Regions from separate parts of the Homo sapiens genome. Here region 1 is linked to region 2. Evidence: fine-mapped expression QTL. A gene starts in region 2. The other region holds a variant in brackets. All regions are shown on one strand. Distances are between the middles of the regions. Region 1 has its middle 19 kb from the start of LINC00489. Region 2 holds the start of VSTM2L (V-set and transmembrane domain containing 2 like).

Evidence for each region. PIP is the estimated chance that this variant, and not a neighbour inherited with it, causes the effect.
Region 1: its variant is fine-mapped to the expression of VSTM2L in spleen (GTEx, PIP above 0.99).

What each region holds. Positions count from the first base shown.
Region 1 is chr20:37,639,690-37,644,077 of GRCh38, forward strand. No RefSeq gene overlaps it. Among named protein-coding and RNA genes, the nearest start is that of LINC00489, 19 kb to the left of the region's middle. The variant G/T (reference allele first, on the strand shown) is at 1,805.
Region 2 is chr20:37,900,580-37,904,967 of GRCh38, forward strand. VSTM2L (V-set and transmembrane domain containing 2 like) reads left to right here and starts at 2,548. Exons shown (of 4, transcript NM_080607.3): 1 at 2,548-2,892. The coding sequence starts at 2,772. The region is part of intron 2 of LOC124904896 (a long non-coding RNA gene); the gene reads right to left. RefSeq lists an enhancer at 1,848-2,811.

The DNA of each region.
Region 1 (4,388 bases), 260 kb before region 2:
GCTCTGCTGTGCAGCTCTGACTCAGGGTCTCTCATGAGGTTTCAGTTAGATGATGGCTGGAGCTGGAGCAGCTGGAAGATGCTGGACATCTCTTTCCTTCTCTGTAGGTGATCTCAGGGATTCTCCATGTGGTCTTTCTGCAGAGGCCGGCTTGGGCTTCCTCATAGCATGGCATCCTCAGGACAGTCATGCTGCTTAAATGTAGCTTAGGGCTCCAGAGCCAATGTCCTTGACCTCCTTCCAGAAGTGTCCCAGTGTCACTTACATGGCATCCTATTGGCCACAAACAAGTCATAGCCTGCCCCAAATCAAGGGAAGGGAACACGGGCCCCACTTCTTCCCAGGACAAGTCTCAAGGTCATATTTTATAAAGAACACGTAAGATAAAAGATGCTGTTGTGCCTATCTTTGCAAAATATGCCCTGCCATAGATCTGAAGGGTGAGTAGGCGTTAAATAAGCAGAGAAGAGAGTTCCAGGCAAAGGGACAGCTGGCACAAAGGCCCTGGGGTGGAAAGAATGTGTGGTTTTGTACTGAGGAAGCACTCAGGGACACAGTAGTGAGTAAGACAACAACCCATAACGTTTGGAGCTTCCATTCTAGTGGGAGAGACAGACAATAAACACACAAAGAAACAAACAACACAATTTCAGGTTGCAATCAGTCCCAGAAAGGGAATACACTGGGTGCCGTGACAGAGTGAGATTGGGAACTGGAGTAGTACTTCAGGCTGGCAAGACCTTTCTGAGGGGGTGGCAATTGAGCTGAGAGCTGCAGATGAGAGGGAGCTGGCCAGCCACGCAAAGGGCTGGGGAAGAGTGTTCGCATCCGAGGGAACAGCATGTGCAAAGGCTAAGAGGTGGAAAAGGGATGGGTGGCATGGTTGAAACTTGGTACGCAAGGGGGCTGGCAGGTGTGACATAAGGATGGACAGGGCGGGAGAGGCCAGGTTTTGCAGGGCTCTGGCAAGGAGTTTGGACTTATTTCTAAGTGTGACAGGGAGCTATTAGAGGGTTTTAAGCAGGAGAGTGATGTGATCTCATTTTGTAATAGAGATCCTCTGGCTGCCGTGGCACTGACTTCTGGGCGTGATGCCAGACTTCCGTTCCTGGCAGTACCATGAATGTGCTGTGTGACCAGAGGCTAGTCACTTAACCTCTCTGAACTGTAAAATGTGAAGAATGGAATATAGTGGGCAGGAAGGAGGGAACCCAGGGAGAAGGCTGTAGCATCATCCAGGCAGAGATGATGGTGGCCTGGACCAAGGTGGTTTCGGTAGAGTTGTTGGTAAGAAATGGGTAGGATCACGACAGACTGGGAGGTAGAATGGACAGAACCTGGTGATTGGATGTGGAGCATGAGAAGGAGGAAAGTACAACCCCCAGGTTTCTGGCAAAGCTTAATCTTATTTTACAGCTCAGAGAGGTTAAGTGACTAGTCTGTGGTCACACAGCACATCCATGGTACCCAGAATTTAGTGCCACCCTCTGGTACTGATACTGAGCCCTTGGCCCTTTTCTCTGTGTCTCCCCTGCCCTACTGCCCCCCATCACCTCCCCTTCTTCCTCCCAGGATGCTGGTGGCTCTGGTTGACGCAGTCCCAGCAGGTGTGCCTCGCCAAGCTGTCGGCATGATGAACAGCTTCCCTTGGCTGAGCAGATAACAGTACACACACAGGTCGGGGGGGCCCATGTAGCCCATCCATCAGGCCCGGGAGTGAGTGGAGGGCCGGCACACCCTCATGCCTGTTATCTGCCACAAATGTGTTTTTCTCCCCAAGGTTAACAGGAAGAGTGACAGCCAG[G/T]TGCCTGACATCAGCAGGGCTGGTGTTCGTAGGAGCCAGCCAGACTCTCTCTCCTTTTCTCTCCCTCAGCGTCTGAAGAGTCCTGGGTGTGGAGACGCTTAGAGCCTCAGAATTGCAGACTCTTCAAGTCTTGAGCACTGAATCTTCGAAACTTAGATGCGTACAATCCTTCATTCCTTGAGGCAGGATTGTGTGGTGGTTAAAAGCGGGGACTCTGGATCCCGCCTAACCTGATTGGGTTGACATCCCAGTTCTGCCACTTACTAGCTGTGTTATCTAAGGCAAACACCTCAGCATCTCTGTGCCTCATTATGAGGGTGGTAATAGTGTAATAGTGTCTAGACCACGGGTGGCCGTGGGGATTATAGGAACTAATCTTTGTATCTAAAGTGCTTAGAACAATGCCCGGCACAGAGCATGTTGCTCATATTGGTAGATATAGAGTTCTTAAAGACACAGAATCTTCAAGTCTAAGTTTTAGAGACACAGAACTTTAAAACCTTTGAATCTTCTTAGGGCCACAGATTTTCAGAATCTTACTATTTTAGGTGATTATGGTCACACCTGCAGTGGCAGCTGCAGGGGTTTTAGGCTTCCATAATCTCTGTCACTTCTTTCTCATTTCATTCACATGGGCAATAGCTAGTTTCTCAATCTTATGTAAAGTGTTCTGCAAATATGGTGGCAAGCCCACCTTCTAGGCAGATTGTGGGCCCCACATAGAAATTCTAGAGTGTCTACTGCACAACACCTCACAGTCTCTATAAATACGTTTATCTAACTATCTACCCAGTCCATCCATCCATCCATCCATCCATCCATCCATCCATCCATGCATCCCTTCATTTATCCATCCATGCATCCTTTCATCTATCCATCTTCCCATCCATCCATCTATCCACTCATTCTATCCATCACCTTCTCACATCTATCAATCAATCTATTGTCTAGCCATCTATATGCATTTCCCATCCTTCCATCCATCCATACATCCATACATACATTCTTCTATCTATCCATCTTTTCATCCACCCATTGATCCATACTTTCATCATCCATCTGTCCATCCATCCATCCATATTTGCTCATCCCTCCTCCCCCATCCACCTATCCCATTTCTCTCTCTCTCCTTCCTTCTTTCTTCCTTTTTAAAATTTTCTCATCCTTCCATCTATCTGTCTATCTATTCACCCAACACTTATTCACTTATTGAGTGTCTATAGCATACAAGGTACTGGATTGGGCTATAGAAGGAGGTCTATGCATTGGCGTCAGTTTCTATCTTCCCTGAGCTTCCAGTCCAGCAGGCCATAGAAGACCCAAACACAAACCTGATAATGCAAGCTTGGCTCTATACAGCAGAGATAAAAAGCCATGCTGAGTGACAGAAAGGGAATTCTCCTTTCTGCTGGGGCCCCTGGGGCAGCTTCATAGCAGAGGTGGTATTTCATCAGGATCTCGAAAGACCCTGTCTTGATGACATTACAAGTGGCTTCATCTTTCAGGGGACTGGGAAGAGAAGCCTGGGGAGCCTTAAACACCATCTGGTTCACCTGGATGACCACTGCTAGGAGGTTTGCTTCCATTTTTTTTTCAAATTTAATATTTTTCATTTTGGTTTAGTGAAGGGGACCAAATGAAAGGAGGTTCCCTTTAAATACCATGTGAAGAAGTGCTGCAATCCCTTCTTGCACACCTCCAGGGCTGAAAAGCTCACTACCAGACAAGGAGAAAGGCCTCTAGAACTCTACTGTGCTCCAGGAACTGAAAGGCACAAAGGGCTCTGTTTGATCTTCCTGACCCCCAGGAACTGTCTATTACTGTTATCTGGGGGGTTGGGGGTAGGAATAGTGCTCTGGACCCAGTGTGTTTGGCTCACATCCCAGCTTCCCATTCATGAACTGTATGACCTGGAACAGGTTACTTCACCTCCCAAGGACTCAGTTTACTCATCCATAGTACGGTGATGGCAATTAGAATACCTCTCATGGGATTGTTACAAGGATCAAATGAGCTAACACATTCATGATGCTGAGTGAATGTTTGTGAAATTATTGCTATTACTGTTTTAGGTGGTTGTATTAGTCAGTGTTGCATCAGGCAGCTCAGTGGAGAGCATGAATCTAGCAAAATCGTGACAGTGGTTTGGAAGAGTTGAAAGTGCAGTGGCTGGAGATTATCAATAGCAGAAAAGATGCTACAGACCATATTCACCATTTGACGAAGGCATCCTCTTTGGACTAGTGGGTGCTGCACAAGTAAATGGGATGCTGTGAGAGAAAGAACCCCAAGACTGGAGGAACAAAGACAGGAGTGATTTTTTTTCAAGACAGGTCTCCTTATGTCACCCAGGCTGGAGTGCAGTGGCGTGATCACAGTTCACTGCTGCCTCCACCTCCAGGTTCAAGCGATCCTCTCACCTCAGCCTCCTGAACAGCTGGGACTACAGGCATGCACCACCACGCCCGGCTAGTTTTTTGTATTTTTTGTAGAGATGGGGTTTCTCCATATGCCCAGGCTGGTCTCAAACTCCTGGGCTCAAGCAATCCTCCTACCTCGGCCTCCCAAAGTGCTCACAGGCGTG
Region 2 (4,388 bases):
AGTACAATGGTGTGATCTTGGCTCACTGAAAACTCCGCCTCCCAGGTTCAAGCGATTCTCCTGCCTCAGCCTCCTGAGTAGCTGGGATTACAGGTGCCCACCACCACTCCTGGCTAATTTTTGTATTTTTAGTAGAGATGGGATTTCACCATGTTGGTCAGGCTGGTCTCGAACTCCTGACCTCGTGATATGCCCACCTCGGCCTCTCAAAGTGCTGGCATTACAGGCGTGAGCCACCACACCTGGCCGATCACGAGCATTTTCAAAGGCATACAATCCCTGGATGTCTGTCCTTGAAGGAACCTTGACCTTGTTCCAGGCTTCAAAGAGAAAAGATTTCTGAAGGTCAGCCGGTGGGCTAGGGGCACAGCAGCAATGTGCTGCCATCCCGCCAGACCCCCTTCCTCTGCAGGCCTGAGCAATCTCTTGTTTACTCCTCTTTAATCTCCTCTCCCTCCCTGTCCCCTTGCCTGTGTCTGCTCCCTCCAATCTGTGGTTTAAGAGGAGAAAGCCCGGGTTTGAGTCCCAGTTCTGTCACCACAGTCTCCTGGTGAGGCCTCAGGCTGGGGTTGAAGGAGTCCTGGGTTTTAGTCTGGCTAACATGGTGGCTGCTATGTGATCTGGAGGATTCTCAGTTTCCATATCTTTATGATGGAAGCAGTAGTTCATTTCGCTGGGAGCGGGGTTCAGGGTAGTTAATGAATGAGAAAACACGTGCATAGAGTCCAAGACGCCTGGCCAGCCCAGGATAACCTAAACACCACCTCTGTGTGGGAAGAAAGTGAGAAGTGAGAGAATCAGGCAAACACGGCCCCTTCCTCCAAGGCATGTGGTCCAGAAGGTTCGGGGGGTGGGGGAAGCGGTCGACGCTTGGGACCTGTCCTCGGTACTGAAGGGAGCGCGGGGGCTGTGGACGGTGCTAGAACACAGTGCTTGTAAGTGCGGGACATCGTGGAGGAGGTGTCCTTAGTTTGGAAGGAGCTGGATTGTTGCTGGCTACCACGGGCCCCATCCGGTGTGCTACCCCCCCCCCATAATACTGGAAGGGGGGCGCTAAGACAGAGGGAAGACGGCGAGGGGCTATGTTCCTTGGTCTCTAACCTTGTTCTCAAACTTGGGCGCTGTACACACGGCTGGACGCGGGATCCACCTGTGTTCTGGAGTGGGGAGTGGGCTGTCGGAGGGGTTGACCCTGTTCGACGGGGACGGGGAAGAAAGTCTGAGGGTCTGTCCACGGTGTGAACCCTAGCATCAAAGGGCCAGTTGAGACGCTGTCCACGGTGCCCAAAGGATGGGCCCGGGTGGGGCGGGGGGCGGGGGGCGGGGGGGGGGCTGGCGCTGTCCTCCTCCGTGGTGCTGAAACCGGGAGGACCAGGCTGTGTGAGCAGGGAGGCCTGGGGAAGGGCAAGGGATGAGAGCAGGAGGGACCCCGCCCAGGAGTCAGGGGCCTCGCCCGACTCGCCGTGGGACCTCAGAGAAGCTAATTACCTGATTTCAGGCGCTTCCTTATCTTTTAAATGGGACCACAGTTCCGCCCTCCTGTCTGTCCCATCAGCCCCAGTAACACGGCTTGGGAAGGAACTGGAGGACTTTGTTGGATTCTTGCTCTTGGGAATGGGAATGGTGCCCTATCCCCCTCCCCTGCCACACTCACACACACATACACCCACGCATACGCGCGCGCACACGCACACGCACACACACACTCATGCACACACACACCATCAAGGCTCATTGGTCTAGGGAAGGAGCCTACAGTCCAGAAGGGGGCGATCCCATCCACCACATAAGGTCCAGTATCTTCAAGAGCCAGGAGCCGCAACAACTAACTGGCCTGTCTCTCTCCCATTACAAAGACTCGAAAACTGAGTCCCAGAAAGGGGAACACCGACAATAATAACTACTGAGCTCCTACCACGTAGGCAGCATTATGCTAAGCGCTTTGCATGCACGATTTCGCAAATCCTCACCAGGACCCCCGCAGACAGCTATTACCCCTATTTCTCAGATGAAGACTTCGAGGTTCAGAGAGGGGTAGACACCCGGACGCGATCACACAGCGAGCCGAGGTCGGCGGCAGAGCTATCACCAGGTCCCCTGGGTCTCAGCCCAGGCTCCCACCCTACCTCGCCCTCACCCCCAGCCCCACTGGCCCCTGACCCCGGCCCCGCCCTGCCGGTAAAGTTAGGAGCCTCTGAGTGCGCTGGCCTGGCGGCGGGTGCCCTGGCTTTTCTCCCTCTCCCCGCTGGACGGCATTTCTGTGGCTGAAGCCCGTTGGGTCGTGCTTTGCGGGAACCGCGTCCCTGGGGTGGCTCTCTCCGCCCCATCCCGGCCCCGCCTCCGCACTCGGGCGGGGGAAAGTTGCGGGTACCGCTTTAAAAATCCCAGCCTGGGCAAAACTTTGATGATAAATCAAGCGGCAGATCCCTCCGCCGCCTGCTCCGAGCGGGAGGAGGGAGGGGAGGAGGGAGGGGAGGAGGGAGGCGGGAGGAGGGAGGAGGGTGCGGCGGCGGCGCGGCGTGGCCTTCCGCGGAAGGGAAGAGTCCCGCAGTCGGAGGCGGCCGGCTGGGCGTGCGCTCGCTCCCCGAAGCCGGGGCTGGGCCGGAGCCGGGCGAGGGCTGGGAGCTGGGCCGGGTCCGGGGACAGCGGGCGAGGGGCAGCTGCCGGAGCCGGGCAGCCAGGCCGCTCAGGGCAGGGGACAGCTGGCGCCGGTTCTGCGGTCTCCGGGGCCCAGATGTGAGGCGGCGGCGCCCCCGGCCCGAGAGCGCACGATGGGGGCCCCGCTCGCCGTAGCGCTGGGCGCCCTCCACTACCTGGCACTTTTCCTGCAACTCGGCGGCGCCACGCGGCCCGCCGGCCACGCGCCCTGGGACAACCACGTCTCCGGCCACGGTGAGTTCGGTCGCCGCCCCCGCGGACTTCCCCACCAAACCCCAACCCGGGCCGCGCCACTCCAACTTGGCCGCCCCGGGGCTCGAACCGGCGCCAGTCGTGGCGGGCATCCCGGGGCGCCCCCTGCCGGCGCGGTGGACCCGCCCTGGCACCCTGGCCCTGCAGAGAAGGGGGCACCCGGGGCGCACCCCCGAACCTCCTCCCCACACACTCGCGCGGATACGCACACCTGCATGGCCACACCGATATGCACAGCCGCGGACACACTCAGAGCCACAGTCGCTGCTTTCTCACACTCACAACTCCTACCCTGCACATCTCCACACACCTCAGGTCCCCCTCCTCACTGCAAGCCTTTACACTTATGCCCACTACACACGCACATCAGGCACTGCGCCGGTGGGCTCACTCTGCCAGCTGGCGCACACGCTTCGCCACAACTCTTGCCTGCCCACCTGCAGACACACTGGTGCGCGCGCGCGCACACACACACAGGCACACACATACACACACATGAACACAATTTGCTCACCCACTCCTCTCTGCCCATCTGCCTTTACTCTTCTGGGTTTAACCGCACAGAGGCCCTTGTCCTCTTCCTCTCCACACCCAGCCCTATACCACTGGAAAGGTCCTTGGGGGCAGAAGACCTTGTTTCTTGAGAACTGGTCGCCTGGGGCTGCAGCCTCCCAGTTGGGCGGGTGGCACCTGGTGGAAGCCCCTCAGAGCCACCGGAGTAGTTGGGGTTGCTGCTTGCAGCCAGAGGCATGGGAGTGGGAGTGGAAGTGGAATGCCGGGTGCTTTTGTCTGCCTCTGGGGATGGGCAGGAAGCCGTGCCATCCTTCCATAGGGTACCCCCATCCTCATCCTCGGCCCTAGAGGACTGAAATGTGGGAAATCTCAACTCCAGCCGCTGTGGAAGCCGGGGAGCAGACAAGCATTCCCAGCACTGGCTGGCTGAGTGTCAGAAGCTCCTGCTAGCCCCGAAGGAGCCCAAGTTGGCAGCAGAGTTGGACTGTATGAGCCCGGCAGCTGTGGGGGCTCCCCCTGACCCCTGTGAGCCTGGCTCTGGGATGGAGGCTCGAGCATAGATGAAACCAAAGGAGACCTTTCTTCCATGCAGCCCTTCACTAGACAGGCTGACAGCCTTGTTGGGGAGGCTGCAGCCCCAGTGCTGGGCACTGTGGGCCCAGGGCTGTGGGGAGGTTTGCACAAAGGCCAGATAATTGGATGATTTATTCTGATGGGAGTGAGTGGGGGTAAGGCAGGGTAGATAATCAGGGAAGGTTTTGCTGGGGTATGACACATGAGTGGGATTGCTCCAGTGGAGAGGGGGGCTTCGAAGCCATCCTCAGGGTCTCTGCTTTTTGGGAACCATGACTCCCCGCCCCCTTCTGCCTCACCATGTTTGGTAGTAACTGCTGTGTGCATCATTTACATACCCTTCATGCCCCTCACCTCATTTCTACCGACCTGGCTAGAGCGGTGGTAAATAA